3 linked regions of the Homo sapiens genome follow. The protein of the gene in region 1 interacts with the protein of each later gene in a pairwise test. Each region holds a gene or a part of one and is shown in the gene's direction. Other genes may lie near its edges.

What was found.
Region 2: the proteins of CHAF1A (region 1) and LZTR1 interact in a two-hybrid assay, tested with the Homo sapiens proteins (one large-scale study listed by BioGRID and IntAct).
Region 3: the proteins of CHAF1A (region 1) and MBD1 interact in binary tests that used the Homo sapiens proteins (3 or more experiments, as listed by UniProt).

Annotation. Positions count from the first base shown.
Region 1 is NC_000019.10:4,423,106-4,426,754, forward strand, and holds part of CHAF1A (chromatin assembly factor 1 subunit A), read left to right. Parts: intron 1-229; coding exon 230-290; intron 291-700; coding exon 701-769; intron 770-3,649. UniProt on the Homo sapiens protein: Acts as a component of the histone chaperone complex chromatin assembly factor 1 (CAF-1), which assembles histone octamers onto DNA during replication and repair.
Region 2 is NC_000022.11:20,985,148-20,988,796, forward strand, and holds part of LZTR1 (leucine-zipper-like transcriptional regulator 1), read left to right. Parts: intron 1-693; coding exon 694-750; intron 751-2,356; coding exon 2,357-2,436; intron 2,437-2,862; coding exon 2,863-2,971; intron 2,972-3,641; coding exon 3,642-3,649. UniProt on the Homo sapiens protein: Substrate-specific adapter of a BCR (BTB-CUL3-RBX1) E3 ubiquitin-protein ligase complex that mediates ubiquitination of Ras (K-Ras/KRAS, N-Ras/NRAS and H-Ras/HRAS).
Region 3 is NC_000018.10:50,271,524-50,275,172, reverse strand, and holds part of MBD1 (methyl-CpG-binding domain protein 1), read left to right. Parts: coding exon 1-44; intron 45-127; coding exon 128-196; intron 197-819; coding exon 820-987; intron 988-1,309; coding exon 1,310-1,609; intron 1,610-1,701; coding exon 1,702-1,839; intron 1,840-2,217; coding exon 2,218-2,349; intron 2,350-2,434; coding exon 2,435-2,496; intron 2,497-3,632; coding exon 3,633-3,649. UniProt on the Homo sapiens protein: Transcriptional repressor that binds CpG islands in promoters where the DNA is methylated at position 5 of cytosine within CpG dinucleotides. Binding is abolished by the presence of 7-mG that is produced by DNA damage by methylmethanesulfonate (MMS).

The DNA of each region.
Region 1 (3,649 bases):
CTGACTGGCTAAAGTTTTTTATATATATTCTAGTCACAGGAAGAATTTTATTGACTGTTTTCCATTTTTATTGTGAAGACCTATGTAAAAGCCTTATACTAGACATGAAAATAACTTATATTCATTTAATGTAAAATGAAATACTTGCCATATACTAACAGTTGAGTGCTGCGGTCCCTTCCAGAGCCAAAGCAAAGAGTCGGCTGAAATGTCATTTGCTGTCTCACAGGGCTAAACTTGAGGAAAAAAGGAAAAAGGAAGAAGAGAAACGGTTAAGAGAAGAAGAGAAGGTAGAGTGTTTCCCACAGAGCTTCCCCGTCCCAGCCCGTTGGAGAAGCAGATGCCCAAAGTGGAATTCTTGCCACAGCCGTCACCTAATATTCTCTTGGTTTGGGGAAACCAAATGGCGCCCGCAGGGAGGGCGAGTCTGTCTAGATGCGTTCTTGTTGCTTCTTCCCAGTGCTGGCTGTCACATGCCTACTGGCCCTGCAATCCTGGCACTTCTACCCACAAGGGCAACTTGGACATTTTGAGATTGGCTGGCTCAGTTGCGGGTCCGTGGGTTTTGAGAGCTGAAAATCACAGTAGTGCCTTCAAGCTAAAATGCTTGACGTTCGGTTCTGGGGGCCTTTGCATGTTTTGCAACACATACTGTTCCTCTTCCTCTCCTCTTTCTCATCACCATCTCTTAACATCACAGCGCATTAAAGCAGAGAAGGCCGAAATCACGAGGTTCTTCCAGAAACCAAAGACTCCACAGGCCCCCAAGGTGAGCAGCCGGCTGCCTTTGCTTTTGGGTTTCAGCTCTGCTAGACTTTTCCTTTCTGAAAGTGAAAGGGTCTCTCCCCAGCCAGCTTCTCTCATTAGGAGGGAGGGAGCCTCCAGTGACCTAGGGCACTTCCATTTCTGGTTAAGTCTTGAGGCTCAATATTTTGTCCTTCGCTTTGTCCCAAAGAGGTAAAAAGTGGCATGTCTGATTAAACAGTGCTGTTTTCAGAGGTTACTTCATGAATAATTTTGTGTTAGGCGTAAGAGAAATTCACCATGTTTTTACCCTTGGGAAACTTAGGCTTAAGGAGGGAGCACGTTTAGCTGTAAAACAACAGTACAATTCACAAAGGTTTACTTTCCCTGCCTGGCGTCGGTCACCTGGCATCTCAGACCTTCTGAGCCACCATCTGTGCATGGAAACCACAGCCCTCCTTCCCCTTTACCCAGAGGGAGCCCATCTCCAATGTTAGGGGTCCTTCAGTGCCTTTCCCTGCTCCACTCACTGTATTTATACACATGTGTACTTAGCTATCTCAGATTTGTGCCATGTTGCCACATTTAGATGTATTTCATTCTTTTTAATGTATCTGGCCTTTATTTATTTTTTGAGGCAGGGTCTCACTGTCACCCAGGCTGTAGTGCAGTTGCACAATCAAAGCTCACCACAGCCTTGACCTCTCAGGGTCTGGTGATCCTGTCACCTCAGCCTTCCCGAGTAGCTGGGACTACAGGCATGTGCCACCATGCCTGGCTAATTTTTTATTTTTATTTTTTTTGAGATGGAGTCTCACTCTGTCACCCAGGCTGCAGTACAGTGGTGCGATCTCAGCTCACTGCAACGTCCACCTCCCGGGTTCCAGTGATTCTTCTGTGTCAGCCTCCCAGGTAGCTGGGATTACAGGCACATGCTACCACACCTGGCTAATTTTTGTATTTTTAGTATAGACGGGGTTTTACCATGTTGGCTAGGCTGGTCTTGAACTCCTGACCTCAGGTGATCCGCCCGCCTCAGCCTCCCGAAGTGCCGGGATTATAGGCGTGAGCCACCGTGCCCGGCCTAATTTTTTAATTTTTTTTTGTAGAGACTGGGTTTTGCTATGTTGCCCAGGCTGGTCTCGACGACCTGGCTTCAAATGATCCTCCAAACCTCGGCCTCTCAAAGCACTTGGATTACAGGTGTGAGTCCCTGCACCTGGCCTGTCCTTTTATTTGTATGTTGAGACATTTGATGGCAATTGTGTATCCTGAAGGTGCACAATGTGACATTGTTGTACCTACACATCATATTGTGACAGCCAGAGATCCACATCATGTATTTTCACTGCCGCATAATACTTCATAATGCAATGATATGGTTTCTCTCTTTTTTTACAAAAATTATTTATTTATTTAGAGACGGAGTATTGCTCTGTCACCCATGCTGGAGAGCAGTGGCGCTATCTCTCGGCTCACTCTAACCTTTGTCTCCCGGGTTCAAGCAATTCTTCTACCTCAGCCTCCCGAGTAGCTGGGATTACAGGTGCCTGCCACCACTCCCAGCTAATTTTTTGTGTTTTTAGTAGAGACGGGGTTTCACCATATTGGCCAGGCTGGTCTTGAACTCCTGACCTCAGATGATCTGCCCATCTCAGCCTCCCTAATTTTATTTTTAGTAGAGACTGGGTCTCACTGTGTTGCCAGGGCTGGTCTCGACCTCCTGGTCTCAAGCATTTCTCTCGCTTTGGCCACCCACCGTGCTAGGATCACAGGCATGAGCCACAGAGCCTGCCACTATCTCAACCTCTTTGCCCCTCAGTGGTGTAGGGGGGGTCCCTGCACATGCTTCTCTGCACACATGCATTCCTCTGGGACAGCCAAGTAAGCATGAGTTCACCTCTAGGACAAAATAGCATATTGCTGAAGCATCATGAGCCATGGCCAGAGTGCGTGCCAGATGGGAAACTCAGATGTACATTCCCGGCGATGTGTGGAAATTTCCTCCCCATTCTCTGCTATCACTGCAATTTTTATGGGATTAATTTTCTTTTAACTTTGCCAGTCTGATGGATTTTTAAAAATTGACATTGTTTTACTTTCCATTTTTACTTGACTCTTGGTGCAGTTGAGCATCTTTTTCTGTTCGTTTGCCATTTTAGTTCTTCTATGACTTGCCAATTCCTATTTTTTTACCTATTTTTCTACAGGATTTTCTTTTTTTTTCTTTGCCTGATCTGTAAGTTTTTTTTAACATAGTCTAGTATTTCATTCTCCGTGATATTTCGTCTCAGCCTGTTACCTCTTTGTTTACAGTCTTTTTTTTTTTTTTTTTTGAGACACAGTTTCACTCTGTTGCTGAGGCTGGAGTGCAGTGGTGCCATCTCGGCTCACTGCAAGCTCCACCTCCTGGGTTCACACCATTCTCCTGCCTCAGCCTCCCGAGTAGCTGGGACTACAAGCGCCCGCCACCATGCCCCGCTAATTTTTTGTATTTTTAGTAGAGACGGGGTTTGCACCGTGTTGGCCAGGATGGTCTCGATCTCCTGACCTTGTGATCCGCCCGCCTCGGCCTCCCAAAGGGCTGGGATTACAGGTGTGAGCCACCGTGCCCGGCCTTTGTTGTTTTTTGTTTGTTTGTTTTGAGACAAAGTTTCGCTCATTGCCCAGGCTGGAGTGCAGTGGCATGATCTCAGCTCACCACAACCTCTGCCTCCTGCGTTCAAATGATTCTCTTGCCTCAGCCTCCCGAGTAGCTGAGATTACAGGCATGTGCTGCCACGCCCAGCTAATTTTGTATTTTTAGTAGAGACGGGGTTTTTCCATGTTGGTCAGGCTTGTCTTGAACTACTGACCTCAGGTGATCCGCCTACCTCGGCCTCCCAAAGTGCTGGGATTACAGGTG
Region 2 (3,649 bases), on another chromosome or scaffold:
CCTCCCGGGTTCAAGCGATTCTGCCGCAGCCTCCCGAGTAGCTGGGATTACAGGCGCCTGCCACCATGCCAGGCTAATTTTTTTGTATTTTTAGTAGAGATGGGGTTTCACCATGTTGGCCAGGCTGGTCTCAATCTCCTGACCTCAAGTGATCCGCCCGCCTAGGCTTCCCAAAGTGCTGGGATTACAGGCGTGAGCCACCGAGCCCAGCCCATTGTCTCTATTTCTTTTTTTTAAGAAGTGGCAGGAAGATCAGAGAGAAGCAAAGGGCCTCTCCTGAGGCACGGGCAAGCACTTGCATTGCAGGGTACAGCTGCAGAGGAAGGGGATTGGGACGTGTGAATAGGGGTTCTGGAGGCTAGGGTGAGGTGTGAGGGTGACTCTGGCCTTTGGGCCATTTCATGCCTTCATGTCAGCTGCTGGTTGGGCTCCTGGTGGCCACATTCATGCTTTGGTCCTGACCCCAGGCAGGCTGGTGTCTGCCTGTGTGGCAGCCCTGGTGCCCATATCAGTTGGGGAGCCTCCTTTGTGGTCACCACTCTTGTTCTTGGGCATCAGCTGGTTGCCTGGCTGTGTTAGTGACCCAGCCCACAACAGCCCCCTACTCTACCCTGGCTACATGCAGTGCCCATCTCTGGGGTCACTGCAGAGTAGACCTGGCTAATGCCACCCTCTCTTCCGGCTGCCTTTCAGGAAGACCATGCTCAATGACCTCCTGCGGTTCGATGTGAAAGACTGCTCCTGGTGCAGGTGGGTGGCCCCGTGCTCCAGGGCCCTGCCTTTCCTCCTAGAACACAGTGGCACAGTGCTGGGTCCCAGTTGCTAGCAGAGTCTCTCTCATCATGGGAAGCTAGAAAGAAGCTTCCAGGAGGAGATAACCACGGCCTCAGGGATGCCACATCCAGAGCCGCCCTGTCAGGCTGAGGAGATCAAGTAACCACCCCGCACCTGCAGCTGCCAAGCTGGGCACACAGGGCGGCACCCTTCTGGGCTGTCCACCTCTACCTCGAGGCTGATGCTAGTATGGGTACAGAAGTTGCTATGTCTTTTCTCTCACACTTGATTTTGTAAGATGGCTAGTAGTTACAAATTAATTTAAAAAATCATTCTGAAGGCTTCACAATTATTTGTCAAAAATTGCTTAAGTATAAAACTCAGAAAAAAGCTAGGAGTTCAAGACCAGCTGGGCAACAAAGTGAGACCCTGTCTAGGAAGATAGATAGACAGATGATAGATAGATAGATAGATAGATAGATAGATAGATAGATAGAAAGAAAGATAGATAGATGATAGAAAGACAAAGAGAGATGATAGATAGATGATAGGTAGATTAGACAGATAGATGACAGATAGATAGATAGTGGATAGATGATAGATGACAGATCGATAGATAGATGATAGGTAGATGATAGGTAGGTAGATTAGATAGATGATGGGTAGATAGATGACAGACAATAGATGATAGATGATAGGTAGATAGATGATAGATGACAGATAGATGATGGATAGATTATATAGGTAGATGATAGGTGGATAGATGATGGATATATAGATTATATAGATTAGATGATTGATAGATGATAGGTAGATAGATAGATGATGGTTAGATAGATAGGTATTAAATGAAATTGATGGACCCCGTGCTGTAAGATGCTGCACTGCTGCTGAGAGCAGGAGTGTGGATGGTCCTGGAGTAGCATGAGGACCTGGTCACATTCTGTGAGTGGAATAAGCAATTTACAAAATATCTGCCACTTGATTCCATTTTAAAAAATTTCATGGAAGCCTAAGTATGCGTAGGAGAGGTGTGCAGGGAAGACCTCAAGGTGTTGCCAGAGGTTTTCTGGTAATGGGAATTTGCATGAGCTTTAGTGCCTATTTTGTTTTTTCCTTATTGGTGATTTTTTTTTTTTAAGTTTCTATGATGAGACAGGTATCACCTTCAAAATACAAAAGTGAAACGTAGCTGGGCGCGGTGGCTCACGCCTGTAATCCCAGCACTTTGGGAGGCTGAGGTGGGCGGATCACCTGAGGTCAGAACTTCAAGACCAGCCTGGCCAACATGGTGAAACCCCGTCTCTACAAAAATACAAAAAATTAGCTGGGCATGATGGTGGGTGCCTGTAATCCCAGCTACTCAGGAGGCTGAGGCAGGACAATCGCTTGAACCCAGGAGGTGGAGGTTGAGCCGGGATCGTGCCACTGCACTCCAGCCGGGACGACAGAGAGAGACTCCGTCTCAAAAAAAAAAAAAAAGAAAAAAGAAAGGCAGCACAGGGATGCAGGGCCACCCTGTGGGGGTGTGGACCTCATGGGTGACCCCCGCTGACTCTCACCACCCCTGTGCCCACCCCAGGGCCTTTACCACTGGGACCCCACCGGCCCCCCGTTACCACCACTCGGCCGTCGTCTATGGGAGCAGCATGTTTGTCTTTGGTAAGCAGCCTCTTGCCTCCCAGGGGCTGTGTCGCCCCGAGGCCCACAGACACCCTGCCCTTCTGCAGGCCTGGGGCATTTGTGCTCGTGCTGTGTACAGCAGGGGCTCTCTCTCCACCCGTGGCTTTGTCTGCCAGTCTTCGGAATTCTGCGCTGGATCTGGGACCCCTTGCCCTAACGGCCCTGAGCTCACAGGGTTGGGTGTCTTTCTGTGTTACTGAGCTGTGGCTGGGAACAGTGTCCTGCTCATCTCTGTGTCCCCAGAGCCCAGCACAGAGGCAGACAGGCAGCAGGTCGTTCCGGGGCTTGTGGAAGGAGTCCTGGCTTATGCATTTTCAGGGGGGCCAGATTCTGCTCCACCTTCCAGGGTTTGAAATCTCCAAGACTGCCCTTTGGGTTTGACAGTTTCTCACTCTCTTTACTCAGGGGGTTACACTGGGGACATTTATTCCAATTCTAACTTGAAGAATAAAAACGACCTCTTTGAATACAAGTTTGCAACTGGCCAGTGGACGGAGTGGAAAATTGAAGGACGGTGAGAAACTTTGCAGAAACATTTGGGACAGGCTGGGTCCTGGGTGGCATTGGACCTGGGATCTGCCCCCTTTTGCCTCCCAGATGAGGACCCTGAGGGCACGCAATAGCAGGGAGCTTGGGATTGGTGGAATATCCCCCGGTGCAGCTATGCATGGCCTGCTCCCAGCCCTTAGACTCCCTCCTTTCAGAAGAGACCCAAATGGACCAGGCGTGGTGGCGCATGCCTGTAGTCCTAGTACTTTGGGAAGCCGAGGTGGGAAGATCACTTGAGCCCATGACTTCAAGGCTGCAGTGAACCATGTGTGCCCCACTGCACTCCAGCCTGGGAGACAGAACAAGACCTTGTCACAAAAAAATGTTCAATAAGATCCAATGTACTGCTGATGGCGCTTCTGGGGTCCCGCTTTTTGAGCACCCCCTTTGATATTTTGGGGGCACCTAGGAGAAGGTTCTGTGCCTCTGTGGCTGTCTGAATTCCTCTTCAAGCCACTAGTCGGCCTCTGGGGCTGTTGTTTATTCCTAGTGCCTTGTGGAGGTCCTGAAGCCCCAGTGTCGGGTGGATGTAGCCATGCAGCCTGGCTGTGGCCCCTGCACTGACCACATGGGGCTGGGTGGCTCAGGTCTGTGCTGGGCGGCCTCACTCCCTCCCCTCTTCCCTCACACTCCAGGTTGCCAG
Region 3 (3,649 bases), on another chromosome or scaffold:
TGCCTCCACCACCCCCATCACAGTCCCCAGAGCCCACAGAGCCGGTGAGGCCCCAGTGGGTGGAGGGAAGGCACAACCCTGACCTTACCCAGTACCTGCCCTGACCCCACCCCATTTGCCTCTACAGCACCCCAGAGCCCTGGCCCCCTCGCCACCTGCCGAGTTCATCTATTACTGTGTAGACGAGGACGAGCTAGTGAGTGGCCCCACCCTACCTGGATAAGCCTAGAATCTCAGGACGCTTGGTTAACTTCAAAGAAGCAGATGCTGGAATGAGCCTATTGGGGAACAGCAAGGCACAATAATGGGTCCTAGGATGGGATGAGTAGATAATGGAGGACTAATACGGGGTCAGCAGGTGCATGAGAGTGCTTCATGTCACATATACCAACACTCTGGTAGCTGATGTGGGGATTGACAGAGGAGCAGCTAGCATAGTGACTGGGGTTCACCTAGGATGAGCGACAGAGTAGGCACAGTGATGGGAGCTAATAGAGAGTTATCAAAATGTTGCTGGAAATGGGGGTCAGAGACATTTTCTTGGTAGCTAGTGGTGGCCTAGGAAATACAGCAGTGGATACTGTAGTGGAGCAGCCACAGTCCTAATGGTATCGAGGGCCAGCTGGCACAGTGATAGTGGCCAATGTTGAACTAGCGAATGCTGAGGAGTGACTAGTGGGGAGTCAGGAGGCTGAGACTAGTATGCAAGTAGCTCCGTCTTATGGGGCTAGAGGAGCACCAGGACCAGCACTGGAATAGGCGTTGAGGATGGCCTCTCCTAGTCCTAGTTGACAGCACCACCCATTCCCCCCACCCCAGCAGCCCTACACGAACCGCCGGCAGAACCGCAAGTGCGGGGCCTGTGCAGCCTGCCTACGGCGGATGGACTGTGGCCGCTGCGACTTCTGCTGCGACAAGCCCAAATTCGGGGGCAGCAACCAGAAGCGCCAGAAGTGTCGTTGGCGCCAATGCCTGCAGTTTGCCATGGTGGGTGGGGCAGGAAGGGTCAGGTGGACGGGATAGGTTGGGCCAGGCGCCCCAGTGCCTGGAAGTGGTGGGCAGGCTTGGTAGGTGGGTGGGTGGGGCAGTAGCTTTGGTTGAGGATTAACAGACATTGTTCTTGGCTTAATGAGTCTAGGTGGCATTGGTGTTGCTAATAGGAGACTAGCAGGCTCAGTGATGAAGGGCTCATATGTAAGCAGATTCCGTGCTGGGACTGATGGGAGATTAGCAGGCATGTGGAGCCGGGCAGGGTGGATGTGATTGGTCAGGACACCAGGTAGCCATAGCACCCTATCTTTCCCCATAGAAGCGGCTGCTGCCCAGTGTCTGGTCAGAGTCTGAGGATGGGGCAGGATCGCCCCCACCTTACCGTCGTCGAAAGAGGCCCAGCTCTGCCCGACGGCACCATCTTGGCCCTACCTTGAAGCCCACCTTGGCTACACGCACAGCCCAACCAGACCATACCCAGGCTCCAACGAAGCAGGAAGCAGGTGGTGGCTTTGTGCTGCCCCCGCCTGGCACTGACCTTGTGTTTTTACGGGAAGGCGCAAGCAGTCCTGTGCAGGTGCCGGGCCCTGTTGCAGCTTCCACAGAAGCCCTGTTGCAGGTGAGGGCCCCACCCTGTCCTGCCTTCCCAGCCTCACCCAGCTGCATGCCAGGGAGCTGAGACCAAGTCTGCTGCAATCCTCCCTCACGCAGGAGGCCCAGTGCTCTGGCCTGAGTTGGGTTGTGGCCTTACCCCAGGTGAAGCAAGAGAAGGCGGATACCCAGGACGAGTGGACACCAGGCACAGCTGTCCTGACTTCTCCCGTATTGGTGCCTGGCTGCCCTAGCAAGGTGGGGGCAGTGATGGATGTTCTGTTGGTGCCGTAGCGGAGTGGTCTGTAAGCAGAGTGATGATGAGCCATGATGGTTCTCTTGAGCAGAGCAATAGATGTGCTGATTGCGACGTTTCTGCAGAATTACCCCGCCTGTCTAACAGACACCCTACCTCCCACAGGCAACTAGCTTTGCCCGCTTTGCTATCCAGCTAACAGAAAAACGGAGGTCAGTGAGGAATGGGAATGGGAAAGCTTTGTAGGCAGAGAGATGGACTTTCTGTGTTGAAATGTGATGGAAGTAGGATTTGTCAGCACAGTGAGGGGTTGGCTGATAGAGACTTTCCTCAGGTGAACTCTGCCCTTCTAATGGTTGCCTGTTTCCTACTTCTCCCAGGCAGTAGACCCAGGCCTGCCTTCTGTGAAGCAAGAGCCACCTGACCCAGAGGAGGACAAGGAGGAGAACAAGGATGATTCTGCCTCCAAATTGGCCCCAGAGGAAGAGGCAGGAGGGGCTGGCACACCCGTGGTCAGTGCTGGGGATGCCCCACCCTGCCCTGACCCTGCTGTAGCCCCAACAACCACATTGACCTATGGTGTTAATTCTTCTCTAGATCACGGAGATTTTCAGCCTGGGTGGAACCCGCTTCCGAGATACAGCAGTCTGGTTGCCAAGGTGTGCCCCACACAGTGAGGGGTGGGGAAGGAGTGGGTGTTGGCCAGATGTGGGCCCTGAGTTTTGAAAGTATAGCCGGCAGTTTGGCATGGTGTGGTGGGAGGTAAAGGCCCATACCCACTATGCTGGTCACAATTAATGAGGGGCGTGTGTGTAGGACCCTAGAGATTTCTCCTGAGATCCAGCCCAATAGCATTCCAGGTTAGGACTCTCCTTTGGGGGTAGGGGAAAGACTTGGTACTCTATCATGAGATTTGAAAGAAAAAGATAGGGAGTCTGGTCCCTATTTTCCTAAGGAATTTCTATAGGGGTCAGCTTTAATATATAAATTCTTATTCAGAGAATAATCATTTGGGTCTTGAAGGCCTTTAGAGTCTCCAGGAGACCTCTGGGTGGGCTGTTGCCTGACATTGAGCAATGTGTACCAGAGAAATGGTGCTGGGCTTGCCTGGGCAGTGGTATGGGCAGGAGATCTGGGTTCCGAGCTGGCTTTGTGAGCTGGGTTCACACGTAGTTGTGTGATCTCTGGTTGCCCTGCACTTCCTGGAGCGGCCTCTGTGGAAGGGCTTGGGCTGGATCTCTTGAGCCTTTCCTGAGCCTATTGAGGTTATTAACTTCAGATGCCTTGCAGAACTGTCCCTGTAGTCCTGGCATAGAACAAAGGGTAGATGCCTGTAAGGACTAGGGTGGTTGGGAGGACAGAGGAGTGCTGGCTCCTGCAGAATATTGACAGACCCTGCATAGAGCCCCAGACACTGGCGATGTAAACTATTGGCCTAAGCACTTGGATTCCTTTGCTCCTACAAACCAGCCCACCAGGCTAGAAACCCTTTCATCTATACTTGGCCAATTACAGAAGTATTGATTGAGTTCCTGTTGGGTGCACAGCATTGAGGACAATGAGCCCTGCAAAGCTTACCCTTCAGGAGACACAGGATACCTACCTTCAGGGAGCTTATAATCTGACTATGTACAAGCTGTCTATAATGGTAGTTTTTAGAAGATATAAAAAAAGATAAAGGATAATTAAGGGGAAGTGGATGGAGGACACAGAATAGTAGGAAATGGTTTTGTAATGCTCCATTGCGCACATAGCAAACCTCATTCAACATACAGACCTGCTCCCTTTTCCCTAGGTCCAAAGACCTTAAAA